7 separate regions of the Homo sapiens genome follow, and regions 2, 3, 4, 5, 6 and 7 are each linked to region 1. The links come from fine-mapping of genetic effects on gene expression. A gene starts in region 1. Each other region holds a variant in brackets. All regions are shown on one strand. Distances are between the middles of the regions. Region 1 holds the start of HIP1 (huntingtin interacting protein 1). Region 2 overlaps HIP1 (huntingtin interacting protein 1). Region 3 overlaps HIP1 (huntingtin interacting protein 1). Region 4 has its middle 2.3 kb from the start of POM121C. Region 5 overlaps HIP1 (huntingtin interacting protein 1). Region 6 overlaps HIP1 (huntingtin interacting protein 1). Region 7 overlaps HIP1 (huntingtin interacting protein 1).

What was found. PIP is the estimated chance that this variant, and not a neighbour inherited with it, causes the effect.
Region 2: its variant is fine-mapped to the expression of HIP1 in whole blood (INTERVAL, PIP above 0.99).
Region 3: its variant is fine-mapped to the expression of HIP1 in whole blood (TOPMed, PIP above 0.99). The same link has a PIP of 0.9 or more in T cells, blood mononuclear cells, monocytes, neutrophils and tibial nerve.
Region 4: its variant is fine-mapped to the expression of HIP1 in whole blood (INTERVAL, PIP above 0.99).
Region 5: its variant is fine-mapped to the expression of HIP1 in whole blood (INTERVAL, PIP above 0.99).
Region 6: its variant is fine-mapped to the expression of HIP1 in whole blood (INTERVAL, PIP above 0.99).
Region 7: its variant is fine-mapped to the expression of HIP1 in whole blood (INTERVAL, PIP 0.98).

Annotation. Positions count from the first base shown.
Region 1 is chr7:75,736,843-75,740,907 of GRCh38, reverse strand. HIP1 (huntingtin interacting protein 1) reads left to right here and starts at 1,967. Exons shown (of 31, transcript NM_005338.7): 1 at 1,967-2,107. The coding sequence starts at 1,988. RefSeq lists a silencer at 1,190-2,179.
Region 2 is chr7:75,605,364-75,609,428 of GRCh38, reverse strand. The region is part of intron 1 of HIP1 (huntingtin interacting protein 1); the gene reads left to right. Among named protein-coding and RNA genes, the nearest start is that of SPDYE5, 120 kb to the right of the region's middle. RefSeq lists a silencer at 871-1,071. The variant TA/A (reference allele first, on the strand shown) is at 1,899.
Region 3 is chr7:75,615,744-75,619,808 of GRCh38, reverse strand. All of the region lies in intron 1 of HIP1 (huntingtin interacting protein 1), which reads left to right. Among named protein-coding and RNA genes, the nearest start is that of HIP1, 120 kb to the left of the region's middle. RefSeq lists an enhancer at 1,987-2,488. The variant G/A (reference allele first, on the strand shown) is at 1,798.
Region 4 is chr7:75,486,564-75,490,628 of GRCh38, reverse strand. No RefSeq gene overlaps it. Among named protein-coding and RNA genes, the nearest start is that of POM121C, 2.3 kb to the right of the region's middle. The variant AGGAG/G (reference allele first, on the strand shown) is at 1,671.
Region 5 is chr7:75,580,338-75,584,402 of GRCh38, reverse strand. It overlaps HIP1 (huntingtin interacting protein 1), which reads left to right. Exons shown (of 31, transcript NM_005338.7): 6 at 2,252-2,328; 7 at 3,105-3,166. Among named protein-coding and RNA genes, the nearest start is that of SPDYE5, 90 kb to the right of the region's middle. The variant C/T (reference allele first, on the strand shown) is at 2,175.
Region 6 is chr7:75,621,375-75,625,439 of GRCh38, reverse strand. The region is part of intron 1 of HIP1 (huntingtin interacting protein 1); the gene reads left to right. Among named protein-coding and RNA genes, the nearest start is that of HIP1, 120 kb to the left of the region's middle. RefSeq lists enhancers at 346-1,299, 1,300-2,253. The variant A/G (reference allele first, on the strand shown) is at 2,044.
Region 7 is chr7:75,627,308-75,631,372 of GRCh38, reverse strand. All of the region lies in intron 1 of HIP1 (huntingtin interacting protein 1), which reads left to right. Among named protein-coding and RNA genes, the nearest start is that of HIP1, 110 kb to the left of the region's middle. RefSeq lists an enhancer at 1-229. The variant T/C (reference allele first, on the strand shown) is at 1,703.

The DNA of each region.
Region 1 (4,065 bases):
CCTCTTTCACTTCTCTATTGAATGTGTGAATTTTTACCAAACGCTCTTATTAAAAAAAATAAAAACAAAAACAAAAAAAAAACAGGCAGGGCAGGGTGGCTCACACCTGTAATCCCAGTGCTTTGGGAGGCTGAGGTGGTAGGATCATTTGAGCCCAGGAGATCATGACCAGCCTGGGCAATCCAGCAACATACCCCTCACTACAAAGAAATATGTATATATTTTTTTGAGACGGGGTCTCGCTCTGTCTCCCAGGCTGGAGTGCAGTGGCGCGATCTCTGCTCACTGCAACCTCTGCCTCCCTGGCTCAAGTAATCCTCCCGCCTTGTGAGTAGCTGGGACTACAGGCTTGCACCACCACGCCCAGCTAATTTTAAAATTTTTTGTACAGATGGAGTCTTGCTATGTTGCCCAGGCTGGTTTCAAAGTTCAGAGCTCAAACGATCCGCCTGCCTCAGCCTCCCAAAGCGCTGAGATTACAGGTGTAAGCCACCGCACCTGGCCAAATTTACAACACACACACACACACACACACACACACGAATCACCAAATTGTTAGGCCTAAAGGTGCCATTCATTACTCCGAGTTTCAAATAACTTTTAAAAAATACATCTATGCCGGGTGCTGTAGCTCATGTCTGTAATCACAGTACTTTGGGAGGCCAAGGTGGGAGGCTTGCTTGAGGCCACGAGTTCGAGACCAGTCTGGGCAACATAGAAAGACTCCATCTCTGCAAAAAAGATAGCCAGGCTTGGTGGCGTGCATCTGTAGTCCCAGCTACTCGAGAGGCCGAGGCAGGAAAATCGCTAGGACCCAGGAGCTCAAGGTCCCAGTGTGTTACGATCTGCACTCCAGCCTGGGCGACAGAGGGAGACTGACTCCAAATGAAACCAAAAAAAAAAAAAAAAACAAACAAAAACAAAAACAAAAACACACCTAAATTGGAGTTTAACGGAAAACTTTTAACTTTCTCCAGCACTCCTGCTAAGCATCACACTTCTCTCTGCTTGCTGGTACCCTGGCTGACGTCTGAGCAGGATGGGACGCGCGGCTCAGAGCCTAAGATAAACCGAAAGTGTCTACAGGGCTTTCTACCAACAAATAAGCTCTGACGGGTTCCTTTGATGAGGTTTGGGAGGCAGGTCCCGGGAGGTGCCCGCGGACTCAGCCCCGAACTCCGGGACCTGGGCTCTGCGATCCTTGCAGAGGGCATGGGCAGGGGCAGAATGGAGAAGTGCAGGACGGGGAAGCCTGGGAGCTGGGTGGGGGCGGCCACCCATTGAGCCGGATCCGGCCAGGCGCCCACGCTGCGCCCCGCCCGCGGGGCTGCGCTTTCCCGGGCTGCGGCCGCAGGGCTGGTCAGTCCGGCGCTCCCGGGTCCCAGGCCCGGAAGGAGCTAACGGGCTATTCGCAGGCGGGCTGGGATTCCCCCGGGGGAGGCCCCACTGCCCGGCCCGCGTCATCCCCGCCCATCTCCACGGGCCGTCGCGGGATAGCCCCCTGCAGGAGCGGGCAGGGTAGTGGGCGGCGCTTGGCGGAGGGCAGCACGCTCGGGGCGCGCGGGGACTGCGGCCGAGGGGAGGAGAGGGCGGTGCGCGGGCGGGGGCGGGGCGAGCGAGGGCATATCAGGGCAGCCCGCCCAGGCCACGCCCCATCCAGGCCTCGCCCCGTCCGCACCCCGCCCCGGCCCTGCCTAGAACGGCGGGACCACGGTGACTGACAGGACTCCAGACCAGTCACCACGCGCCTCGAGGCCCCGAGAGGCTAGTCGGGGCCGAGCCAGCGGAGGGGCTCCTGAAGGGGCGGGGGCGGGCGGGGAAGCCGTTCGGCGAGGGGCGGGGTCTCTGGAAGACTGGCAGAACTCACAGCCAATGGCAGGCGGGAGCCGTCCCGTTAGCGCCGGATCCCCGCGGGTAGGGCGGGGCGGGCGGCGCCGTGGGGATCCCGGGGCAGCCGAGGGCCCCTGACTCGGCTCCTCGCGGCGACATGGATCGGATGGCCAGCTCCATGAAGCAGGTGCCCAACCCACTGCCCAAGGTGCTGAGCCGGCGCGGGGTCGGCGCTGGGCTGGAGGCGGCGGAGCGCGAGAGCTTCGAGCGGACTCAGGTGAGGACGGGGGACCCCGGGGCATCCCTGGGGCACCCTGAGGGACGCGGTGTCCGGGAGGGGCTTTGAAGGGAGTAGGAGTCTTGCAGGCCCCAGTTGAAGACGGGGCGAGGGTGTAGTGAGCGGGGGCATTGACGTGCAGATCTGGGCGATCCCAGGAAGGTCGGGGACCCCAGGGTACCCCAGCTGGCCTGGGGAGAAGGGCAGAGGCGGGCTCGGAGGAGATGGCAGGATGCGTGGCCAAGAGGAGCCTGATCGGCTGGGTACCGGGCAGGAGTCCCAAGATGAGGTGAGAGGGGAAGGAACTGAAAAGGGGCGGAATGGAAGGGTTGCCCCTAAACAAGGGAAGCGCACGGGAGCCACTTGGAGGCTCAAGTGTGGGGGCGGAGAGTGGGGGCGCCGGGCTGGGAATGTGAAGGGTGAGGGGACCTCTCTTCCCCTCCGATCACTTCTTGGTTGCATTGACATCCCTTCCCACCCCCCACCCCTTAGCATCCCCCTTTCTCGATGCCTCTTGCTTGGCTCTGGCCAGCCCCAGCTGTCAGCTCTGAGGCCGGGCGGAAGGGGTCGGAGCAGGGAAAAGGAATGTAGGAAATGCAAAGTGTGGCCACTTTGTGGGAAAATTACTTTGGGGGCTAAAGTGGAGACCATGGTGCCCCTGAGCCCTGACTTGGGGTCTTGGTTTTATCCCCCAAGATGTGCCTGACAGCTAATAGGCAGACTGCCCTATTTGTCCTGCCTGGCCAGGGCTTGGGGCCAAAATTCCTCAGTGTCATCAACAAAAAGCCACAATCCATTTTTTTCTCCGAGTTTTTAATGCCTGGTGTATTGATTGGGCTGAATTAAGCTGACATGTTGATGGTGTTCATCAATTCATTTGTATGTAAAATCCATTTCAAAGAGTACAACGCTTCTTTTAATCCCAGTGCCAATGCTGGAGGGGCAGATTTCTTCTACACTCTTGTGCTCAGAGTGGAACCTTTGAAGATCCATTTGGGTCCCCCTCTCCAGAGGCTGGTCCCCTGATGTGTTATGCGAGGAATACTTCCCCCAAACACAGTTGGAGGGAAAGGGCTTTGGGATTTTAGTTAGAAAAGACAGTGAGAATCTGACTGAAGGTTCTGTATATGGAATCTTTCAAAGAATAGAGCTTTTGGCCGGGCGCGGTACCTCACACCTGTAATCCCAGCACTTTGGGAGGCCGAGGCGGGTGGATCACCTGACGTCAGGAGTTTGAGACCAGCCTGGCCAACATGGTGAAACCCTGTCTCTACTAAAAATACAAAAAATTAGCTGGGCGTGGTTGCAGACGCTTGTAATCCCAGCTACTTGGGAGGCTGAGGCCAGCAGAATTGCTTGAATCTGGGAGGTGAAGGTTGCAGTGAGCCGAGATGGCGCCACTGCACTCCAGCCTGGGCAACAAGAGCGAAACTCCGTCTCAAAATAATAATAATAAAAAAGAATAAAGCTTTTCACCCCCAGAGGACTTCATCCCCTCTTCTTATTCTGAAAACCTTTGGCCCCCCACCTGGGCAACATAGTGCGACCCTGTCTCTACAAAAAATAAAAAAATTAGGCTGGGTGCATTAGCTCACACCTGTAATCCCCGTACTTTGGGAGGCCAAGGTGGGAGGATCACTTGATCCCAGGAGTTCGATACCTGCCTAGACAACACACTGAGATCCCGCCTCTATTTTGAAAAAATTTTAAAATTATCCTCGTGTGGTGGCATACACCTATAGTCCCAGCTGTTTGAGAGGCTGAGGCATGAGGGTCACTTGAGCCAGGAGGCTGAGGCTGCAGTGGGCTATGATCGTGCCACTGCACTCCAGCCTGGGTGACAGAGTGAGACTCTATCTCTACAAAAAAGTGAAAAAAAGAAAGAAAACCGCGCGCAGGTGTGTCTGGATAGTGTGAAGCAGTGGGACCCTGTCTCTACAAAAAAAAAAAAGAAAAAG
Region 2 (4,065 bases), 130 kb after region 1:
ATGGGAAACTGGTCCTCGCAGGGAACTTCTGCCCTGGAAACCCCTCAGTATCTGACATTCCCTGGCCCCCTGGGGGACCTACAGGTTGCCTTAGAACCCAGAATGAGCCCCCAAGAAGCCTTGCCACAGACTCGGCAATGGGCCCCAAACCATAGAGTGGGCTCTGCCTCATGGGTACAGCCACTATGATGAAGTGTTGCTTGGGGAACTGGGGCACGATGATGACAGTGCCTGAGAGCTCTTGTGAGCCCCCCCAGAGCTGCAGGAGAAGGGTCTGGGACAGTCCTGGCAAGCTCAGGCAGAGCTTACAGGTGCCTTGTAGCCGCTGGTTTAGGAAGAAACTTCTTTCCACAAGCCAGTGCTTAGGCCAGGTCCTTGTCAGTTGCACTGGATTCATACTGGGAGGCGGTGACTCCCACGGTGTTCCCCACTTTCCTTAGCACACTGGAGAAGTAACTCATTCAGGAGAACAGAGGGTCATTTGTGTCATGTTCCTCCCCTGCTCAAGAGCCTTCTGTGGATCCCCAGTACCCATCAGATCACAGTTTTCCTCGACCTGATATCCAGAGCCCTCCGTCATCTGATCAGCCGTTTCAGAGTCTAAAAATGGGAAGAGACCTAGAAGTCATCTAATGTAATCTGAACCTGTCCATCTTTTTCACAATAACCCAGAGAGGTTGCCTCTCTTCTGCATGTGTGTTTCTAATAATGAGGAGTTCTCTTTCATGAGACAGCTTTAAGTTCATCCAGAAACTGCCTCTCTGGACTTCTGCCCATTGGTCTAGGTTCAAGCCTCTGGAGTTTTTCCTGCTTCCAGATGGTCACGCTTCAGAATACTGATATTTCTCTAAATTTTCTTCAGATCTTAAGTCCATTTCAATCCAGGTCACTCTTTTTTGGAAATGGTCCAGCTTGTTAGTTTCCTTCATAATGTATAAAGCCTGAAACTGAATAGTGTTTCACGCATGGCCTTATCTGTGTAGAGAACTGGAACCATACGTTCCCTCCTTTTAATGCATCCAGAGAGATCAGACTTGCATGTTCATCAACCGTATCAAAATCTTGCTATTATTAAGTTAGCAGCCAAATAAAACACCTTAATTCTTTTTTTTGTTTTCTTTTGAGACGGAGTTTCTCTCTGTCACCCAGGCTGGAGTGCAGTGGCGTGATCTCGGCTCACAGCGTTCTCCGCCTCCCGGGTTTAAGCAATTTTCTGCCTCAGCCTTCCGAGCAGCTGGGATTACAGGTGCCCACCACCACGCCCGGCTAATTTTTTGTGTGTTTTTAGTAGAGACGAGGTTTCACCATCTTGGCCAGGCCGAACTTGAACTCCTGACCTCGTGATCCACCTACCTCAGCCTCCCAAAGTGCTAGGATTACAGGCGTGAGCCATGTGCCCAGCCAAAACACCTTCATTCTTTTCACAAGTGCTGCTTTGAGTCACGGCTCCCTTGTGCCAGTGAGTTTAGGCCTAAGTATAGAAAATTTCCTTTGTACCTACTGGATTTCATCTTGTGAATTTTAATGCATTTTTCCAGTCTGTGGATTCTGATCGTGTCTCTGTGGTGTAGAGGGCCTTGTCTAGTGCCGAGGTTGTGATCCTGAGCCTGAGCTTGGTCACACTGCAAAGACTGAATCCCCGCCCTACACTTGCTGATGTTACGGGCCTGGGCAGTTTACTTAGCAGTTCTTTTTTTATTTTTATTTATTTATTTTAGAGATAGGGTGTCACTCTGGTCCCCAGGCTGGAGTGCAGTGGCGTGATCATGGCTCACAGCAGCTTCAAACTCCTGGGCTCAAGTGATCCTCCTGTGATCCTCCTATCTCAGCCTCCCAAGTACCTGGGACTACAGGCACGGCCACCGCACTTGACAAATTTTTTTTTTTTTTTTTTTTTT[TA/A]GGCTGGGCATGGTGGCTCATGTCTGTAATCCCAGCACTTTGAGAGGCCAAGATGGGCGGATCACCTGAGGTCAGGAATTCAAGACCAGCCTGACCAACATGGTGAAATCCCATCTCTACTAAAAATACAAAAATTAGCCGGGCTTGGTGGTGTGCACCTGCAATCCCAGCTACTGGGAAGCTGAGACAGGAGAATCGCTTGAACCCAGAAGGCAGAGGTTGCAGTGAGCTGAGATCACACCACTGCACTCCAGCCTGGGCAACAGAGCAAGACTCTGTCTCAAAAAAAAAAAAAACAAAACAAAAAACAACTCTTTTTTTTTTGTAGAGATGGTGCCTTACTGTGTTGCTCAGGCTGTTCTGAAACTCCTGGCCTCAAGTAATCCTCCCACCTAAGCCTCCCAAAGTACTGGGATTACAGGTGTGCACCACCACACCTGGCTATTTAAAAAAAAATTTTTTTTTAGAGATGGGGTCTCGCTCTATTGCCCAGGCTGGTCTCAAACTCCTGTTCTCAAGCAATCCTCCAGCCTCAACCTCCCAAAGTGCTGGGATTACAGACATGAGCCACCCCACCCAGGTTTACTTAGCCTTTCTAAGCCTAAGAGATCTCAGGTACCTTGGTTTCTTCATCTGCAGAATGGAGCTGATTAATACTATTAAGTGTCTACTGGTAGGTTGTAGAGTTGTAAGACTTTATATAAGATAATTCATACAAAGGGGCCTGGTCTAAGCACTCATTAGTGCCATCAGCTTGATAATTATCACCACCGTTACCGCTAGTTCACTTCCTCATTCTTTTAAAAATGGCTATTTCTTACCCAAGAGCCGCCTGGCCTCATTGTTCATTGTTCCTTCGGGTCCTTTTCTTACAGTGTCTCCCCAGCTTGTGGCCCTTGCTGCTATCCTCCCCTCATCTAGGTCCAGAGCCTCTGCATCATCTTTTTTTTTTTTGAGACGGAGTCTCACTCTGTCGCCCAGGCAGGAGTACAATGGCGGGATCTCGGCTCACTGCAACCTGCACCTCCCGTGTTCAAGCAATTCTGCCTCAGCCTCCCAAGTAGCTGGGATTATAGGCATGAGCCACCACACTCAGCTAATTTTTGTATTTTAGTAGAGATGGGGTTTCACCATGTTGGCTAGGCTGGTCTTGAACTCCTGGTCTCAGGTGATCTGCCCCCCTCGGCCTCCTAAAGTCTCTGCATCATCTTGGAGGCACCATGGATGCATCCTTCTGCTGTCTCCCTGTAACCCGGAGCTCCTATCTGCCAGTCCTACTGAAGCTCGTTTTACAGCTCACATTATATTGGGTCATTTCCATTCTCACATCTTTCATTTTGATTCCATTTTTCCTGTACTTTTATGCTATTAAATAGCTTCTGGCTGGGCATGGTGTCTCACACCTATAAGCCCAGCACTTTAGGAGGTTGAAGCAATAGGATTGCTTGAGGCCAGGAGTTCAAGACCAGCCTGGGCAACATAATGAGACCCCGTCTCTATTTAAAAAAACCAACTAGCCAGGCATAGTGGTATGTGCCTGTGGTCCCAGCTACTCAGGAAGCTGAGGTGGGAGGATTGCCTGAACCCAGGAGGTTGAGGCTATAGTAAGCTATGATTGCACCACTGCACTCCAGCCTGGGTGACAGAGCAAGACCCTGTCTCCAAAAAATAATAATAATTGATTAAATAAAAATACAGCCAGGCGCGGTAGCTCACGCCTCTAATCCCAACACTGGGAGGCCAAGGCAGGGGGATCACCTCAGGACAGGAGTTTGAGAACAGCCTGGCCAACATGGCAAAACCCTGTCTCTACTAAAAATACAAAAATTAGCCAGGCGTGGTAATGTGCAACTATTATAATCCCAGCTACTTCGGAGGCTGAGACAGGAGAATCACTCGAACCCAGGAGGTGGAGGTTGCAGTGAGCCAAGATTGCGCCATTGCACTTCAGCCTGGGCGACAGGGCAAGACTCCGTCTCAAAACAACAACAACAACAAAAATAGCTTCCTCCCTGAATTCTCACCTCCAGGCTCCATCCAGCTCTACCCCAGCTGCCGCCACTGCTGGCCCATTCCCCTCCACCTGCTGTCATCTCTTCTTGCCACTCAGAAGCCCACTGGCCTCCCACACGCAGCCTCACCTGCCTCCTGGCTTCTCCTCCATCC
Region 3 (4,065 bases), 120 kb after region 1:
CAGATGTGGTTTTGTATAAATCACACTTCTGTAAACTGAATCCTCTCTTAAATGTACTAACGGAGATTGCTATTTAAGGGTATCGAATGCCAATGTCTTCTGTGAAATGAATAATAATCTCCTAATTTGGCCTTAGTGGCAATTCACATTTTCCAGAAAAAAATTTACTTACATCAAGGTATACTTGTCTGAGCTGAGAAACTGACTTCATTCTTCACATTTCCACCATCTTTATTCTTTGCTCTCATTCTTCCTTTTTGTTACTGTTTTTCTTCTCTTTTTTTTTTTTTTTTGAGACAAAGTCTTGCTCTGTCGCCCAGGCTGGAGTGATCTCGGCTCACTGCAACCTCTGCCTTCTGGGTTTAAGCAATCCTCCTGCCTCAGACTCCCGAGTAGCTGGGATTACAGCAGGCACACGCCACCACACCTGGCTAATTTTTGTATTTTTAGTAGAGATGGGGTTTCACCATGTTGGCCAGGCTGGTCTCAAACTCTTGACCTCAAGTGATCCGCCCACCTGGGCTTCCCAAAGTGCTGGGATTACAGGCATGAGCCACTGTGCCCGGCCACTGTTTTTACTTTTAGCTGAATTTTTTCTTAGACTCTGACATACAATGTTCTTCTGTAACATCACCTGAATTAACAGTGCCATGGGCCCTTCCGAGCCCAAATGAGTCCAATTTGGGGGTGGAGCAAAGGAATCTAGGGGTGTGTGTACAAACTCGGGGTACAGGATTCTCAGATGATATCCCGGCCTAGCCAAGTCTGGGAACCACTGACCAAAGGCTTTCTTTCTACACACAGCGATTCCTGCAGAAATAGAACAAAAGGTGGGATGTCAAGGATGTTGGGTGGGAGGCCAAGGTGGGAGGCTCACTGGAGCCCAGGAGGTTGAGACCAGCCTGGGCAGCATAGTGAAACCCCATCTCTACAAAAAAACTTGGAAGAAAAAAAAAAGGATGTGCTCAAGGGAGAGGCATCAGGTTTTCTAGTGCTGGGATGTGGCTGGGGCTTGGCTCATTCACTTGACAGAAAGGTCACTTCTAGAAATTGGACACTGCAAGAGACCCAGAGCTGGATAAGGGATGGTTCCCGTGCTGGGGGATCTCCTGTAAGTCAGGCATCACCCACCTTGAGTCTTCAGATCATTGGAGATAAGTAGCAGTATATTAATAAAAGAGAAGAGACAAAACTAACCTCACTGTTAGAAAGCTGGGGAAACAGCTGGGTGCGGTGGCTCATGCCTGTAATCCCGGCACTTTGGGAGACTGAGGAGGGCAGGTCACCTGGGGTCAGGAGTTCAAGACCAGCCTGGCCAACATGGTGAAACCCCCATCTCTACTGAAAATACAAAAATTAGCCACGTGTGGTAGCTCACACCTGTAATCCCAGCACTTTGGGAGGCTGAGGCAGATGAAACACTTGAGGTCAGGAGTTTGAGACCAGCTTGACCAACATGGTGAAACCCTGTTTCTACTAAAAATATAAAATTAGCCAGAGTTGGTGGCACGTGCCTGTAATCCCAGCCACTCGGGAGGCTAAGGTGTGAGAATCGCTTGAACCCAGGAGGTGGAGGTAGGTAGCAGTGAGCCGAGATCACACTACTGCACTCCAGCCTGGGTGACAGTGAAACTGTGTCTCAAGAAAAAAAATGAAAGAAAGAAAGCTGGGGCAACGAGAGGGTGGTAGAGGGCATGAAGAGAGGAAGTTGGGCAATGCTGGTGGTTTGTGGGGAGGGCGCAGCCCAGGGTTTCCCACTCTTGCTGACAAGCTGCCTATCCGGAAGGCTTCCCCCGG[G/A]AGCTCTGGCCAGGGCCATTACGAAAGGCCACTCCAGTCTGGCTCTGTGAATAGTGAAAGATCAGGATATGTCTGGTGGATTTACCCAAGGCTGCGCTTTCTAGGGAGGGTGACTTGCCCAACCAGTGACTATGATGAATGGGGAATGAGCCCTCTGGGTGCAATACCTGCCAGCGTGACTTTGCAGTTTGGGGTGCTAGGGAAGCAGAACCAAGGTTTCCTCCATGACGACAGGAGCAGCAGCCTTACAAGGGAGGAGCCCCTTTCGAAGCCACAGCTCCCTGTGGGTGAGAGGAGGGCATATGGGCCCGCTTCTCCTTTTCCCCAAGGCCTGGTGTCCGAGTCTCTTACCCTGTGCCCTACATTCCAGGCCCCTTTGAAAGCCTAAGTGGGCACCCCGAAGGTCATCACAGATGTTCTCTTATGGAGGGAGGCAGCTGGCATACGGGGAAAAGGAGACCAAGAAACCAAGACTCACGCAAGGAACCAGGCTGAGGCTGGGCGCGGTGGGTCACGCCTGTAATCCCAGCACTTTGGGAGGCCGCTGCAGGAGGATGGCTTGAGGCCAGGAGTTCGAGACCAGCCTGGGCAACACAGGGAGATCCTCACCTCTACAAATAATAAAAAATTAGTGGCTGGGTGCGGTGGCTCACGCTTGTAATCCCAGCACTTTGGGAAGCCGAGGCAGGAGGATCACCTGAGGTCAGGAGTTCAAGACCAGCCTGGTCAACATGGTGAAACCCCGTCTCTACTAAAAACTACAAAACAAATTAGCCGGGAGTGATGGTGGGTGCCTGTAATCGCAGCGACTTGGCAGGCTGAGACAAGGGAATCGCTTGAGCCGGGGAGGCGGAGGTTGCAGTGAGCTGAGATCACGCCATTGCACTCCAGCCAGGTGACAGAGCAAAACTCCATCTCAAAAAAAAAAAAAAAAAAAATTAGCTGGGTGTGGTGGCATGCACCTGTGCTCCCAACTATTTTGGGAGGCTGAGGTGGGAGGATTGCTTGAGCCCAGGAGGTCGAGGCTGCAATGAGCCATGATTGCACCACTGCACTCCAACCTGGGCAACAGAGCAAGACCTTGTCCAAACAAAAAAAAATAGTCATCTAAATGTAGTTACTGTTGTTCCCAGCATCAGTTAGATCAATCACTGTGCCTGACATATACCTCCCTGGTAAACATGAGGAGGAGGACACAGGCTCAGGCACCAGCATGCCTTACCCCAAAGTGATGGCCAGTAATCAGCCTCTGTATGTGTGGACATCCACCCTCATAGGCTGCCCTGCCTAGTCCAGGGGCCAGCAAACATTTTCTGCAAAGGGCCAGATGGTAAATGTTTTTGGCTTTGTGGCTTCCTGCTGCTACTATTTCTTCCTCCTCCTCGTCCTCCTCCTCTTCCTCCTCCTCCTCCTCCTCCTCCTCCTCCCCACCCTTAAAAAGCCAGGCATGGTGGCTAGCGCCGGTAATTCCAGCACTTTGGGAGGCTAAGGTGGGAGGATCGCTAGAAGCCAGGAGCTCAAGACCAGCCTGGGCAACAAAGTGAGACCCGGTCTCTACAAAAAAAAATTTTTTAATTAGCCTGGCGTGGTGGTGCGCACCTGTAGGCCCACCTACTTGGGAGGTGGAGGTGGGACGATTGCATGAACCCAGGAGTTCAAGGCTGTAGTGAGCTATGATCGTACCACTACACTGCAGCCTGGGCAACAGAGCAAGACTCTGTCCCTAAACAAGAACACAAAAACCAGTCCTAGCTCACAGGCCATGCACAAGCAGGCTGAGGCCAGGTTTGGCTGGTGGGCGGTGGTTTGGACCCCTAGCAGCCTGTCCTTTCTCATTCTTGTCTAGGACGATGTTACGAGATACTTTGTTTTTGTTTTTGTTTTCTTTTCTTTTCTTATCTTTTCTTTTTTTTTTTTTTTTTTTTTGAGACAGAGTCTTACTCTGTCGCCCAGGCTGGAGTGCAGTGGTGTGATCTCAGCTCACTGCAACCTCCACATCCCAGGTTCAAGCGATTCTCCTGCCTCAGCCTGCTGAGTAGCTGGGACTACAGGTGCGCACCATCACACCCAGCTAATTTTTGTATTTTTAGTAGAGACGAGGTTTCATCATATTGACCATGCTGGTCTCAAATTCCTGACCTCAGGTGATCCGCCTGCCTCAGCCTCCCAAAGTGCTGGGACTACAGGCATGAGCCACCGCGCCTGGCCATTTTTTGTTTGTTTTTGTTTTTGTTTTTTGAGACAGAGTCTCGCTGTGTCACCCAGGCT
Region 4 (4,065 bases), 250 kb after region 1:
CCTCCGCCTCCAGAGTAGCTGGGACAATAGGCACACACCACCACACCCAGCTAATTTTCGTATTTGTGGTAGAGATGGGGTTTCGCCATGTTGCCCAGGCTGGTCTCGAACTCCTGGCCTCAAATCCACCTGCCTTGGCCTCCCAAAGTGCTGGGACTACAGATGTGGGCCACCGTGCCCAGCCCTCACTGTATGGATTTTCTAAAAAAAAAAAAAAAAAGATTACATTTGTCTTACTTGCCAAAAGGGAAATTAACCTTATCTCCTCTCCTTTTTAAAGAGTATTTCCTTGATAAACCTTGTAATATAAATAACTTCTTTTGTGCCTTTGATATGTACCTAAATCTTTTAAAAAGGTAAATGAACTTCTTGCCGACATTACAACCCAGGAATTTTTTTTTTTTTTTTTTTTTGGAGACAGAATCTCGCTGTCACCCAGGCTGGAGTGCAGGGGTATAATCTCGGCTCACTGCAACCTCCACTTCCCGGGTTCAAGCAATTCTCCCATCTCAACCTCCTGAGTAGCTGAGACTACAGGCGTCTGCCACCACGCCTGGCTAATTTTTGTATTTTTAGTAGAGACAGGGTTTCACCTTGTTGGTCTGGCTGGTCTTGAACTCCTGACCTCAGGTGATCCACCAGCCACGGCCTCCCAATGTGTGGGATTATGGGCGTGAGCCACCGTGCCTGGTCACAATCCAGGAATTTTTTTCTTAAGAGCCTAAGAGTCTTGTCTTTGAAATGTAAACCTGGAGGAAAATAGTGTCCCTATCTTCCTGTTGCCTAGGGAGTTTAGCCTAGGCAACTTGAGCTGTTACTACCTGCTTGTCAAGGAGATGTGAGAAGTTTTATTTTTTCATTGAATACAGGTAATTAACTAGCATGGATGGCCACGTTGATTTCCAGGTGAATTTAGGATGAGTGTTTAAGAATGTATAGCAGGCCAGGCGCGGTGGCTCACACCTGTAATCCCAGCACTCTGGGGGAGGCCGAGACGGGCGGATCACTTGAAGCCACACAGAAATCGAAAGAAGGAGTTTGAGTCCAGCCTGGCCAGTATGGCGAAACTCTGTCTCTACTAAAATACAAATATTAGCTGGGCATGATGGCACATGTCTGTAATTCCAGCTACTTGGGAGGCTTAGGCACGAGAATCACTTGAACCCAGGAGGTGGAGGTTACAGTGAGCCAAGAAGATCACACCACTACACTCCAGCCTGGATGACAGAATGAGACCCTGTCTCAAAAAAAACAAAACAAAAAAAACTGCATAGCAAGTCCTTTTGCATGAGGATGAGTTACTATTTATCTTGAGAGCGTGTATGCAATGGATTGTATCTGCCAGGCTATATAAAAAGGACGCTTTGGCCGGGCGCCATAGCTCACGCCTATAATCCCAGCACTTTGGGAGGCCTAGGCGGGCGAATTACGAGGTCAGGATTTCGAGACCATCCTAGCTAACATAACGAAACCCCATCTCTACTAAAAATACAAAAAATTAGCCAGGTGTGGTGGCTCGCGCCTGTAGTCTCAGTTACTTGGGAGGCTGAGGCAGGAGAATCCCTTAAACTGGGGAGGCAGAGGTTGCAGTGAGTCGAGATCGCACCACTGCACTCCAGCCTGGGCGACAGAACAAGATTTTGTCTCAAAAAAAAAAAAAAAAAAAAAAA[AGGAG/G]GGTTTATTTCTCTTTGCATCTCATTAATGGATCACCTGTGATGGGCATCACAGTCTGGTTTAATGCTTATTCAATAATAAAATTGTTTTCTTTATTTTCTGAATTTGTGGAGAGAATATTCTAGGTTAACAGAATAATCTATTTATTTACTTATTTATCTTGAGATGGAGTCTTGCTCTGTCTCCCAGGCTGGAGTGCAGTGGCCTGATCTCGGCTCACTGCAATCTCTGCCTCCCAGGTTCAAGTGATTCCCCTGCCTCAGCCTCCCAAGTATCTGGGACTACAGGCACGCACCACCGCACCCGGCTAATTTTTTGTGTTTTAGTAGAGACGGGGTTTCACCATGTTGGCCAGGATGGTCTTGATTTCCTGACCTCATGATCCGCCGGCCTCGGCCTCCCAAAGTGCTGGGATTACAGGCGTGAGCCACTGCACCTGGCTTCAGAAGAATTTATTTTTAGTCTTTTCCTTACCAGTTTTTATGAAACAACTGGGCAAGAACACTGTTAGATTTCACCAAAAAATTGTGATGAATCATTGTCTTTATGATCCCATTTTTGAAAATTGACATTTTAATTGTAAACCAAAAATAAAATTCTAAGCCCCCACAACTGACTCAGTGGACTCCCCTGTTGGCCAACAGGATCCAAAATAAACATGGAAAACTAATTTAGGTCATGATGGGAAGGAGGGGGTTGGATATGCCTTGTCATAATTCTCCTCCCGTCAGAGTTTAGGCACAGCTGACCAACATTATGATCTCTATTAGAATAGACATCATAGGACTGACAAAACAGGCTCTTTTTATCAGTAAGATACCCATCTCCAACCAGACTCTGATATAGCATCACATGACAGATAGCAGTCCCTGAAGTAAATCACAGTATTTTACCCCATAACATATTTTCTTTGACAAACTTTAAAATAGTCCTGCAAAGCCATCTCTTTGGGGGAAATTTGCATTCTGTAGAGAATCTCTTTGCCTTACAGAAAAGACTCCAGGTCTTTTCTGGAGAGTCTGACACCTTTTAAGATCCAATAAGAGATATTTATCATCTATTCTCTCTGAAGCCTGTTCTGAGGCTTCACCTACATAACAAGAACCTTGGTTTCCACAATCCCCCTTATCTTAACTCAAACTTTTCCTTCTTTTTTTTCCCTCCCTCTTTTTCCTTCCTTCCTCTCTCTCTTTTTCTCTCTCTCTCTTTCTTTTCTTCTCTGTTGCCCAAGCTGGAATGCAGTGGTGCCATCATGGCTCACTGTAGCCTCAACTTCCCAGGCTCAAGCGATCCTCCCATCTCAGCCTCCTGAGTAGCTGAGTCTACAGGCATGCACCACCACACCTGGATAATTATTTTTTTTTTTGTAGAAGTGGGGGTCTCGCTGTGTTGCCCAGGCTGTCCTTGAACTCCTGGCCTCAAGGGATCCTCCCAGCTCACCCTCCCAAAATGCTGGGAATACAGGCATGAGCCACCGCAATGGCCCATTTCTTTATGTAGTCTTCCAGCTGTTCAGCCAACACTTAACTCTGAACCAACTGCCAGTCTTTCAATCTACTAGTGACCTGAAAGCCTTTCCTGGCTGACCCAACATATACTTCCCATGTATTGATTTATGTCTTTGCCTGTAACTACTGTCTCCCTAAGATGCATAAAACCAAGCTGTAACCCAACTACTTTGGGCTCACGTTCTCAGGACCCCCTGAGGCTGTGTCACCAGCCATGGTCACTCAAATAGGAGGCCCAGAATAAAACTCTTTATAGACTTTGACTCTTTTTGGTCAACATAACCTAACCCTAAACATAATCCTCCTGGGGAAGGTAGGATCACAGGTATCTCTTCCTCGTTCAGTTTGTGTGTGTATGTCCTTATTTCTCTACGGTTTTTAGGCATTCGCTGTGTGATCTAGAAAAGCTATGGAGTCTCGCTTTGTCGCCAGGATGGAGTGCAGTGGCGTGATCTCGGCTCACTGCAACCTCCACCTCCCAGGTTCAAGTGATTCTCCTGCCTTAGCCTCCCGAGTAGCTGGGATTACAGGCACGCGCCACCACGCCCAGCTAATTTTTGTATTTTTAGTAGAGACAGGGTTTCATCATGTTGGCCAGGATGATCTCTATCTCTTGACCTCGCGATCTGCCCGCCTCGGCCTCCCAAAGTGCTGGGATTACAGGCTTGAGCCACTGCGCCCAGCTACAAATTCTATTTTCTTTTTGTTCCTTGGAAAGCATCGCTGGGCATTTATCCTGTCCCAGTATTTGAGTGAAACTTCTCAGCATTTCAGAGCAGTGACCATGATACACCCTTTCCTTTCCTTCTCCTTATGGGAAACTCCGTTCTAACCCAGAGGACTTGGGCTCCAGGACCCAGTAACGGAGCCCTGGATTTGACCC
Region 5 (4,065 bases), 160 kb after region 1:
TTAGCGATACAAGAGTGGGGAAGGAGGCTGGGCAGAGTGGCTCACACCTGCAATCCCAGCATTTGGGGAGGCCAAGGCTTGAGGTGAGACCAGCCTGGGCAACACAGTGAGACCCTGTCTCTTAAAAAAAATTTTTTTTGGCCAGGCGCGGTGGCTCACGCTTGTAATCCCAGCACTCTGGGAGGCCGAGGCGGGTGGATCACCTGAGGTCAGGAGTTCAAGACCAGCCTGGGCAACATGGTGAAACCCCATCTCCACTAAAAATACAAAAAAATTAGCCGGGCATGGTGGTGCGTGCCTGTTAATCCCAGCTACTCAGGAGGCTGAGGCAGGAGAATCGCTTGAACCCAAGGGGCTGAGGTTGCAGTGAGCTGAGATCATGCCATTGCACTCCAGCCTGGGCAACAGAGTGAGACTCCGTCTCGAAAACAACAACAAAAATATCCCGCACACATTAAAGAAAAATTCATTCTCTGGCTGGGCGTGGTGGCTCACACCTGTAATCCCAGCACTTCGGGAGGCCAAGGCGGGCGGATCACCTGAGGTCAGGAGTTCAAGACCAGCCTGGCCAATGTGGCGAAACCCCATCTCTACTAAACACACACACACACACACACACACACACACACACACACACACACACACAAATTAGCCCGCATGGTGGTGTATGCCTGTAGTACCAGCTACTGAGGAGGCTGAGGTGGAGGATCACTTGAGCCCAGGAATTCGAGGCTGCAGTGAGTGATGATCATGCCACTGCACTCCAGCGTGGGCAACAGTGAGGCCATGTCTCTAAAAAATAAAAAAAGAGAGAGAAACAAGAGAGAGCTGGTTTCCCCCTCCTCTGCCATGTAAGCAACGTAATCAGGATGAAGCGCCTCACCAGGCACCGAATCTGTCAACACCCTGACTTTGAACTCCCTGGCCTCGAGAACTGAAAGACACTCTCTATGGGTTAAGCCACCCAGTGCATGGTATCTTGTTATAACTGCCCGAGCTGACTGAGACGGACGTTCAGGACAGAGAGCGTGAATGCATAGTGACACCAGCTGTGAGTCTTTCTCCAGGGACAGTCGGCAGCCGGCCCTAGGTGCAGAGCCGATGACAAGGACCCAGGCTCTCAGCAGGTCTTCCAAGCAGTGTGGTAGAAAGGCAGGCAGGGTGTGGGGAAGTGGAGCCAGGCCACCAGTCATGATGTCAAGACTGAGCCAGGAAGCAAAGGCAGGCAGAGAGATGGGGAGGAGAGGGAGCAGGAGGGGACTGGCCATCTCTGAGACAGAAGCGTGAGTAGTGGGTGGACTTGAGGGCAGGAGAGGACTGAAAGGGCAGAGGCCTGGGCGATGCAGCCAGAGAGGGAGATGCTGGTGTGGGGAGGTCTGGGCAGGGATGTTTTAGGTGATGGCAGAGTCTGGAGTGGGGATGGAGTAGAGGTGAAGGTGCTGAAATTGAGGTCAGAGGTTGTAATCTCAGCGTGTATGACTTGGGGCAAAGGAAAACTGTGTCCCAGGTGCCAGGTCAAGCCTCAGAGGCCTTGGCACCATGGAGCCCAGGAGCAAAGTCTGCAATGGGGATTTTTTTTTCTTTTTTTTGCGGTGGGGGAGACGGAGTCTCACTCTTGCCCAGGCTGGAGTGCAGTGGTGCGATCTCAGCTCACTGCAACCTCCGCCTCCCAGCGTCAAGCAATTCTGCCTCAACCTCCCAAGGAGCTGGGACTACAGGCGTGCACCACCACACCCGGCTAATTTTTGTATTTTTAGTTGAGACAGGGTTTTGCCATGTTGGCCAGCCTCGTCTCTAATTCCTGACCCCAAGTGATCCATCTGCCTTGGCCCCCAAAGTGCTGGGATTACAGGTGTGAGCCACCGCACCTGGCCTAGAGCCTAAAGTATCCACTTGTACATGTAGATGCCCCACGATGGAATGGCCACCCATCTCTGTGGCCTTTTCCCTTTGCCACAGGGACAAACCACACAGATGACAGGATCATGCTGGCTGTAGATACTCAGCAATGATTGATGATACCAGCGATTTTTCTTTTTTTCTTTTTTGTTTGTTTTGAGGTAGGGTCTCACTCTGTAACCAAGCTGGAGTGCAGTGGCCTTGAACTGTAAACTTGAACTCCCGGGCTCAAGCAATCCTCCCACCTCGGCCTCCCAAGTAGCTGGGACCACAGG[C/T]GTGTGCCACCACGCCCGGCTGAGAGAGGGCTCTTCATGTCTTCTGCCCTGACTCCCTTCCTCTGCCTCCCTTCCAGAATCCCAGGTTCCCAGGCAACCTGCAGATGAGTGACCGCCAGCTGGACGAGGCTGGAGAAAGTGACGTGAACAACTTGTAAGTGGCTCCTGCCCTGAGCCCAGGGAGGGAGAAAGCTTTTGTGAATGCTGACACTTCTCATAAGGGTCATGGAGGGCCTGATGGGGGGAGGCCGTGGCTGGGATGGGGACCAAAGCCCCTGGGTGACTTGGCCTTGGGGCTACTTATTTATTGGTGGTGCCTCATCCAGAACCCCTGCCTGGCTATTTCACACCCCAAAGCTTTCCTGTCTGTCTCGCTTTCTGCCCTCTGACTCCAACACTGGTACCTATCCTCTCCCTCTGTCACTGTCACTGTTTTTGTTTTTGTTTTTTGAGAGGCAGTCTTGCCCTGTTACCCAGGCTGGAGTGCAGTGACTTGATCTCGGCTTACTGCAGCCTCCACCTCCCAGGTTCAAGTGATTCTCCTGCCTCAGCCTCCCGAGTAGCTGGGATTACAGGCATGCGCCATCACACCCAGCTAATTTTTATATTTTTAGTAGAGATGGGGTTTCGCCGCGTTGGCCAGGCTGGTCTTGAACTCCTGACCTCAGGTGATCCGCCCACCTCGGCCTCCCAAAGTGCTGGGATTACAGGCGTGAGCCACCGCCCCCGACCTGTCGCTGTCACTGTTGACTTCACCAGGCTGCATGGCCATAATACCCACAAGGCTAAGACTTGGAGCTGGAGTTGTGTGTGTGTTTGCGCATGCACATGAGCATTGGAGACTGGAGTAGCGTAGAGCGTGGGGGAGGGGACAGGTAACAGACCGGCCTCAGGCTGTGGAGTGTAAGCTCTCTTTCCTCTTGGGTCCAGTTTCCAGTTAACAGTGGAGATGTTTGACTACCTGGAGTGTGAACTCAACCTCTTCCAAACAGGTGAGTCTCTTCCCTCCCGTCTAACCCAGGCTCTCATGGGAACTACCTAATTCCTAGTCCTCCTCTCCCTGCAAAGTGTGCAGCACAAGGGGTAGGAAAATGGAGACATTCACACCCCATCTCTGGTCTCTCCAACCCTCGTGCAGGGAGGGACTGAACCTCTTCAGTATTTTTCTTTTTAAGAGACAAGGTCTCGGCCGGGTGCAGTGGCTCGCACCTGTAATCCTAGCACTTTGGGAGGCTAAGGTGGGCCCATCACTTGAGGCCAGAAGTTCAAGACCAGCCTGGCCAACATGGTGAAACCCTGTCTCTACTAAAAATATAAAAATTAGCCGGGCATGGTGGCACATGCCTGTAATCCCAGTTACTTGGGAGGCTGAGGCAGGAGAATTGCTTGAACCCAGGAGGTCGAGGTTGCAGTGAGCCAAGATCATGCCATTGCACTCCAGCCTGAGTGATACAGCAAGACTTCATCTCAAAAGAAAAAAGAGAGAGAGAGAGAGAAGGTCTCACTCTGTCGCCCAGGCTGGATTGCAGTGGCATGTTACGGCTCACTGCAACCTCAAACTACTAGGCTCAAATGATCCTCCCACCTCAGCCTCCCAAGTAGCTGGGACTACAGGCACGCACCACCACATCTGGCTGATTTTTTATATTTTTTGCAGAGATAGGGGTCTCACTGTGTTGCCCAGGCTGTTCTTGAACTACCAGCCTCAAGGTGTCTTCCCAACTCAGCCTCCCAAAGTTCTGGGATTACAGGCGTGAGCTACCACACCTGGCCTCCTAGATATTTTCCAAGCGGGTGGTTTCACGTCTGAGCAGAAAGACCACACACTGCCCCTTCCTACTGGCCTCTCTCCTGAAGCGCAGGCCTCCAAAAGCCCAAAGACAGGTCTTAC
Region 6 (4,065 bases), 120 kb after region 1:
ACACCCCAGGCCTCCATACAGTCCATACCCACCAATCTCTCTCCTCTCACAAGGTGGACACAATGCCATCACTTTCTCCCCATCTAGACCTCACTCTGAAACCAGGACTAAGTCTTAGTGATCTGTGAGTTGACTTAATGCAACACTTGACCGGGTGCTCAATACACCTACCCAGGAGTTTGAGACCAGCCTGAGCAACAGAGTGAGACCCCATCTCTATAAAAACTTAAACAATGGTGGCTTATATTTATAATCCCAGCACTTTGGGAGGCCAAGGTGGGTGGATCACCTGAGGTCAGGAGTTCGAGACCAGCCTGGCCAACATAATGAAACCCCATCTCTACTAATTGTAAAAATACAAAAATTAGCTGGCCGTGGTGGCAGGTGCCAGTAATTCCCAGCTACTCAGGAGGCAGGCTGAGGCACTGCAGTGAGCCAAGATCACACCACTGCACTCCAGCCTGGGCGACAGAGCAAGACATCTCAAAAAAAAAAAAAAAAAATTAAACAAAAATACACCTATGTACAGACACAGAGGGATGAATATAGATTTGATGGATGAATTCAATGAATGAATAAAATCATAACTATCTGAATGAATGATGGAACTTAAATAAATGGAGATGGTTTTGGCAGGGTAGTTAATCTTGGTTAGAGAGGTGGCATGAAGAGAAGGCATGAGGGTCAAATTAGACAGGACGTATTTGGGAAAGGGAAGGACAGGAATGAATTCTAAGACTGGAAAGGCAAGTGGGGGCCGGATCTCCAGGCCTTGAGTGCCAGGCCAGGGAGTGGAGCAGTTTCCTCGTAAGCCCTGGATGTTTCTGACATGATTGGAGCTGTGCTTTAGAAAGGGGGCTTCCAGTGACGTTGTGGCCACCAGGAGACCAGTAGGCTGTCAGGCCTGGAGGCTTCGGTGGGGCTTACCCTGCCTGGGGCCTGTTGGATGACTCCCCCACGGCCAACACCCCTATACTTCTGAATCTCATAGCTCTTTTTCCCCCCACTCCCCTAAGGAAGGGCTCTTCTTCACCCCAAAGACAGAAGAAGTAGAAGGGAGAGTTTCTGGCAGCTTTGCTTTCTGAGGAAGTCACGTCACAGCCGTGCAGCCGATGATGAAATCCACCTCCGGAATTAGCAACAACCTCTCTTTCCACTTTAGAAAACTGATTAGCAAATCCTCCCCAGCTTGTTCTCACTCCCTGGGTCCAGAGCAGGGAGTATCCATCAGCGCCTCTGCCTGCCTGATTCCGTGGCCTCCAGAGTGTAACCACAGCCTCACCGCTCACTCCATCTCTTTTCTTTGGTTCTGACCTGAGATCAGCGAGGTCTGTGCTTTGGAGGTGTGCGTGTGTTTCTTTTACAAGGTCCAGCTCTGTCTCCCAGGCCGGAGTGCAGTGGCACGATCATAGCTCACTGCAGCGTTGACCTTCAGAGCTCGAGTGATCCTCCTGCCCTCAAGCGATCCTCCTGCCTCAGCCTCCTATGTAGCTATGACTATAGGCATGAGCCACCACACCCTAATTTTCTGATGTTTTGTAGACATAGGGTCTCACTACTCCCCAGGCTGGTCTGAAACTCCTAGGCTGAAGCAGTCCTCCCGCCTCGGCCTCCCAAAGTGCTGGGATTACAAGCGTGAGCCACTGTGCCCAGCCTCAAACACTTTACAAGCCAGAAAGGCAATGAGGAGGAGGAGAAGAGTTGGTTTGAGGACAAGGGAGAGGCTCTGGGGAGAACTGGGCTGGAGAAGAGGAGGCGGAGGCTGGCTTAGTTCCTTTCTCCAAGTGCCACTTGCCTGGTCCTTGAGTGCAGCTCCAGGCATCCTGTGCATTCCTCAAATCCTGAGCTCTCAGCCCTGACCTCGCTTCCTGTTTCACTGTGAAGAGAGACGATCTGTGAAAACTGGCACTGCCCTCACCCACATGTCTGCCTCCGTCTGTGTCTGTACTGTGGGATCTGGCCCAGCCTGCCCTCCTGCTGGGCACCAGGCCCCATTCCCATCCCTGCCACTCTCCCGTCCTCTCCTCATGCGCATGCAAATGC[A/G]TTATTATGTCTCCCACTGGAAACAAGAAAACCTTGAGCCCACCTCCTCCCAGCGGCTGCCCTCTCTCTCTGTCCCTCTTCACAGCAGAAACCCTGTAGAGCACTCATTGCCTCCAGCTCCCAGCCTCCCCTTTCTCTCCTCGACCTACCATCAGAGGGGGAGAGCCTTTTTTTTTTTTTTTTTTTGCTTTTTTTTTTTGAGATGGAGTCCCGCTCTGTTGCCCAGGCTGGAGTGCAGAGGCACAATCTCAGCTCATTGCAACTTCCGTCTCCCAGGTTCCAGCGATTCTCCTGCCTCAGCCTCCCGAGTAGCTGGGATTACAGGCACGCACCACCACGCCTGGCTAAATTTTTTATTTTTATTAGAGACAGGCTTTCACCATGTTGGTCAGGCTGGTCTCAAACTCCTGACCTCAGGTGATCTGCCCGCCTTAGCTTCCCAAAGTGCTAGGATTACAGGCGTGAGCCACCACACCCAGCCAATTTCCTTTAAAAAATATATAGATAGATAGATAGATAGATAGATAGATAGATAGATAGATAGATAATTATTTATTTGACAATCTTGCTCTGTTGCCCAGGCTGGAGTGCAGTAACGCAGTCATAGCTCACTACAGCCTCCAACTCCTGGGCTCAAAGTGTCCTCTTGCCTCAGCCTCCCAAAGCATTGGGATTACAGGCACCAGCCACCATGCCCGGTCAAAATGCATTTCTTCATATGGCTTCCAGGGTGCCACAGTCTCCTGGCTTCCCCCAACCTCACAGGCTGTTTCTTTTCTATCTCCATCACTGATTCCCTCCTATCCTTATTTATTTATTTAGAGACCAGGTTTTAAGACTTGCAATGTTTGTATTTTTGGTAGAGACGGGGTTTCACTGTGTTGCCCAGGCTGGTCTCGAACTCCTGGGCTCAAGCAATCCTCCTTCCTTGGACTCCCAAAGTGCTGGGATTACAGGCATGAGCCACTGCCCGTACCTGGCCTCCTGTCTCTCCTGAACGTCGGGGTGTCCTCAGGCTGTCCCCAGACATCTCATCTGCACTCACTCCTTGGTGCTCTTATCCACTCTTACATTCCGTCCAAATTTATAAATGTAGCTCAGACCTGTTCTTTTTTTTTTTGAGACAGAGTCTCACTCTATCACCCAGGCTAGAGTGCAGTGGCATGATCTCAGCTCACTGCAGCCTTCACCTCCTGAGTTCAAGCAATTCTTCTGCCTTAGCCTCCCGAGTCAGCTGGGTGGCGTGCACCACCACATCTGGCTAATTTTTGTATTTTTAGTAGAGACAGGGTTTCATCATGTTGGCCAGGCTGGTCTCGAACTGGCCTCAAGAGGTCTGCCCACCTCGGCCTCCCAAAGTGCTGGGATTACAGGTGTGAGCCACCACACCTGGCCTAGCTTAGACCTTTTCTGAACTCCAGATGCGGCACAGCCCACTGCTCACCCACAGCTCCACTGGGATACCTGGTGGGTGTGTCATGTCTAACCTAGCCCCAAACCAACTCTCCCATGGGTCCCCCCAGCTTGTTAATGGCAGCTCAGTCCCTCTAGTTGCTCAGGCAAATCATCACGATGTTCTCCTTGACTCCTTCCTTCCTCACACCCCAGATCCAGAACATCAGATAATCCCATCAGCTCTAGCTTCAAAATAAATTCAGAGACCGACCACGTCTCGACACCTCCTCTGCCTCCACCATCAATTCTGTCCTGATTGAAGGCAGCAGAGTCTTCACTGTGGTCCCTGCAGCCACACTGGTCCCTGCAGTCTGTTCTCAGCACAGCAGCCAGAGGGATCCTATTGAATCAGATCGTTTTACCGCTTTGCTCAAAACCTTCCAGGGAGGCCAGGCACACTGGCTCACCTGTTAATCTCAGCAATTTAGGAGGCCAAGGCAGGAGGATCGCTTGGGGCCAGGAGTTCAAGACCAACCTGGGCAACATGGCAAGACCCCGTCTTTACCAAAAACCGCAAAAAACAAAACCACTTCCAGTGGCCCCAGTCTTATGTGGAACAAAGGTCAG
Region 7 (4,065 bases), 110 kb after region 1:
GTTAGTTGATCTCCTCATACTGTTTCCTCGCTTCTAAGGCAGGTTGGTGTCTGCAGACTTGCAGCACTGTCAAGATGCTCACTTAAAGTACTTGACACAAGCCAGGCATGGTGGCTTATGCCTGTAATCCCAGTGCTTTGGGAGGCTAAGGCGGGAGGATCACTTGAGCCCAGGAGTTCAAGACCAGCCTGGGAAAAATAGCAAGATCCTATCTCTACTAAAAAAAAAAAAATTTAAAAAACAAATTATCTGGGTTTGGTCGCATGAGCCTGTGGTCTCAGCTACTAGGGATCCTCCCAGCTGAGGCAGGTGGATCACTTGAGCCCAAGAGTTCAAGGCTGCAGTGAGATGTGATTGCACCACTGCACTCCAGCCTGGGTGACAGAGCAGGACCCTGTCTAAAAAAATAAGATAAAATACAAAATACAGTACTTGGCACATAGGAGGGGCTTAGTAAACCATGGCTATCATTAGAAATATGTTTGCTCTTTCATTTAGGCTACAAATAAAATCTGAAAACTTCAGGGAAAGAGGGGAGCATTGCTTCTTGCAGAATGATCACTGCTGGGTGAGCTCAGTCTGCCGGGGCAATCAGACCTGTTAGTAGTTGCAATACATGTGGTGCAATGCACAAAGGATGGGGCATGTGTCAGCCTGGAGAAGGTGGGGTTAACCAGCCGGCAACTTAAGGAAGGGTATCATTAAGAAAACTGGGGACAGAGGGGAAGAAGATCCCCTGGAAGGAGGAAAATAAGGGTATTTCAGGCACGCTAAAAGGGTAAGGTCATGAAACCACAGGATTTGTTCAGAAACTACCTCTGGTCGATGCTTGAAAAGTAGGCACACTCCCTATCTCTGTGGGCTAACAAAGTTTCCAGGATACAGAACACAAATCTTTTTTTTTTTTTTTTTTTGAGGTGGATCTCGGTCTATCCTCCATGCTGGAGTGCAGTGGTGTAGTCACAGCTCACTGCAGCCTCAAACCTCTCAGGCTCAAGTGATTCTCCCACCTCAGCCTCCCGAGTAGTTGGGACTACAGGTGCACACCACCATACCTGGCTGATTTTTGTATGTTTTGTAGAGACGGAGTTTCACCTTGTTGCCTAGGCTTGTCTTGAATCCCTGAGCTCAAGAGATATGCCCGCCTTGGTCTCCCAAAGTGCTGAGATTATAGGCATGAGCCACTGTGCTGGCTTTTTTTCCTTTTCAGAGAGAAGGTCTCACTCTATCCCTGAGGCTGGAATGCAGTGGTGCAATTCCAGTTCCAGTTCACTGCAGCCTCAACCTCCCAGGCTCAGGTGATCCTCCCACCTCAGCCTCCCAAGTAGCTGGGACTACAGGTGCATGCCACCATGCCCAGCAATTTTTAACTTTTTTGCAGAGACAGGATTTTGCTATGTTTCCCTGGCTGGTTTTGAACTGCTGGCCTCAAGCAATACTCCTGCCTCGGCCTCCCAACTTGGCCTCCCAAAGCTGAATCTTTTTACACCTCAGTGATACCTGGAAGAGCTGTGCTTTAAGAAGGGGAGCAGGCCGGGCGCAGTGGCTCACACCTATAATTCCAGCAATTTGGGAGGCCGAGGCGGGAGGATCACCTGAGGTCGGGAGTTTGAGACCATCCTGACCAACATGGAGAAAACCCGTCTCTACTAAAAATACAAAATTAGCTGGGCGTGGTGGCTCACGCCTGTAATCCCAGCTA[T/C]TCAGGAGGCTGAGGCACGAGAATCGCCTGAACCTGGGAGGCGGAGGTTGCAGTGAGCCAAGATTGCAGCACTGCACTGCAGCCTGGGCGACAGAGCAAGACTCCATCTCAAAAAAAAAAAAAAGAAAAGCGGGGGAGCCGCAATTGAAGGAAATACAGGATGCACAATGGGTGCTGAATGCATGAATGATTAAAAGACAAAAGAAGACATTCCAGTTGAGAGAGAGGTGCTGCACACAGGCTGAACATACAACCCTGGGGAATGAATGTTGAGTAGGTTTGTTAGGAGCGGGGCCAGAGGAATGGAGAGGAGGAGTGGGCACAGGTGTGAGGGCCTGTGTTAAAAATAACCAGCAAGTCTCTAGTAGAGCCAGTAAGCGGGGCTGCCTCCACTTGACAATCAGACGTGGATATGCTATTCTGGCCAACGGGTTTACGCTGCCTACTGCTACCCGGGCCTGGAGATGGCTCTCACTGGTACCAGGATAAGTGTGGGAGTTGCAAACCGTGGGTTGGGCAAAGTTTTTTTGAAATGAACATTTCATTAACTTTCTATCTTAACCTCTCTTTGGAGGACTCAGTTCAGCCTCGTATTCTGGGACCTAAAATAACTTTTTCTTGCTGGATTTTTCTCAGGCTAGGAAGAAGTCTTACAAAATCACTGCCTCCCTACTCCCCCTAGCTCAAGATCATGTCACCAGCCCCAGTGCTGGGTAGGGATGTTTCTAATGGTTACAACCAGGGTCCTGGCTATTGTCTTTTTTGCCCTGTATATGTGAAGATTGTCCCCTGAGTCAGCAGACACTGAGGACCCACCCAGACCTCATGCCAGGTGTAGATAATGTAAGAGAGAAAGTGATCCTTTGATGGCTTCTTCCTTAAAAGAGGTACAGGCCGCATGCAGTGGCTCATACCTGCAATCCCGGCCCTTTGGGAGGCCAAGGCAGGTGGATCACTTGAGGTCAGGAATTTGAAACCAGCTCAGCCAACATGGTGAAACCCCGTCTCTACTAAAAATACAAAAATTAGCCGGGTGCGGCAGCACGTGCCTGTAATCCCAGCTACTTGGAAGGCTGAGGCACGAGAATCACTTGAACCCGGGAGGCAGAGGTTGGAGTGAGCCGAGATTGTGCCACTACAGTCTGGCCTGGGTGACAGAGCAAGACTCTGTCTCAAAAAAAAAAAAAAAAAAAAAGAGGTACAGGAGATAAAATTATAATATTAGATTAATGTTAATAATCACAATAGTGTGATTGGTACAATATGAGAGATTTAAGGAAAGTTCTATAGACATTCAGAGGCAAGATGACTAATTCTGCCAAATGGTACAGGAAGTGGGGTGGGGAAGGTGACATTTCATTTATTCATTTATTCAGAAAAGATTTATAGAGTGTCTTCCATATGCCAGGTGCTGTTCCAAGCACTTGGGATACTTCACTGAACCAAACAAAGATTCCTGCCTTGTGGAGCTGAGCTCCTGCAGGGACTGAGGGGATGAGTCATAGATAATAGCAATAAATGTAAATGAGAAAATTTTGTAGGCTGTTGGAAGGTGGTAAATGATCCAGGAAATGGGGTTAGATGCAGAAATGGCTGCACTGTTCTAAATATGCTTGGATAAGAATTGTGAAAGAGGAGTGAGCACATTCATTCCTAGCAGGGGATTTTCCTTGGCTGCCAGGGAACTCTGGAACCCCTGTTCATGGTGTGTACTTGGCTTACAGTCTGGCTGAAATCCTGGACTCCAGATTTAGCTCATGGCTCATTGCTGAGAGTTGTCTGAGTCTAAACCTCAGGGCCCTTTCCCTGTGCCCAGCTCCCCTTGACCATCATCCTGAGGTCTACTCAACTGTGGATCCAGCCGTCAGCCAGAGGGTCTACAGAGCACTGAACACTCATCCACTTCTGCCAGATTTTCTAGTAGTTGGAGGGAAGATGCTGCCTCTTATATCCAACAAATCTCCAGTAAGGGAGGCAAGGTCAAATGGGCAGTTCTCTGGCCATGGCCCTGGGTGTGGACTTGATGCTACCCACAATAAACAAGGCCCTCTCAGCCCTACCCAAGTAACATCAACTGGAACAAGGCTGGAGGTGACAGAGCACCGTGTCTCATGCAATTCTCAGAAAAGTGTGATTCCTATTTTCATGTTCAAGCTGGAGAAACTGAGGCTCAGAGAAGTCAAATCTCAAAGGGCCCCTCACTTTGATCTAGGAACAGTATTTCAGAGTGGTCAAGGCCTTGGGTCCTGGGGTTCAAAATCTGTCTCTACCACTTACCTGGGCAGGTTACTGGGTTCTTTATTCTATAGAGATTTAAGGAAACTCCTATAGAAACTAAGTAGGAATGATTGATTCTGCCAAGT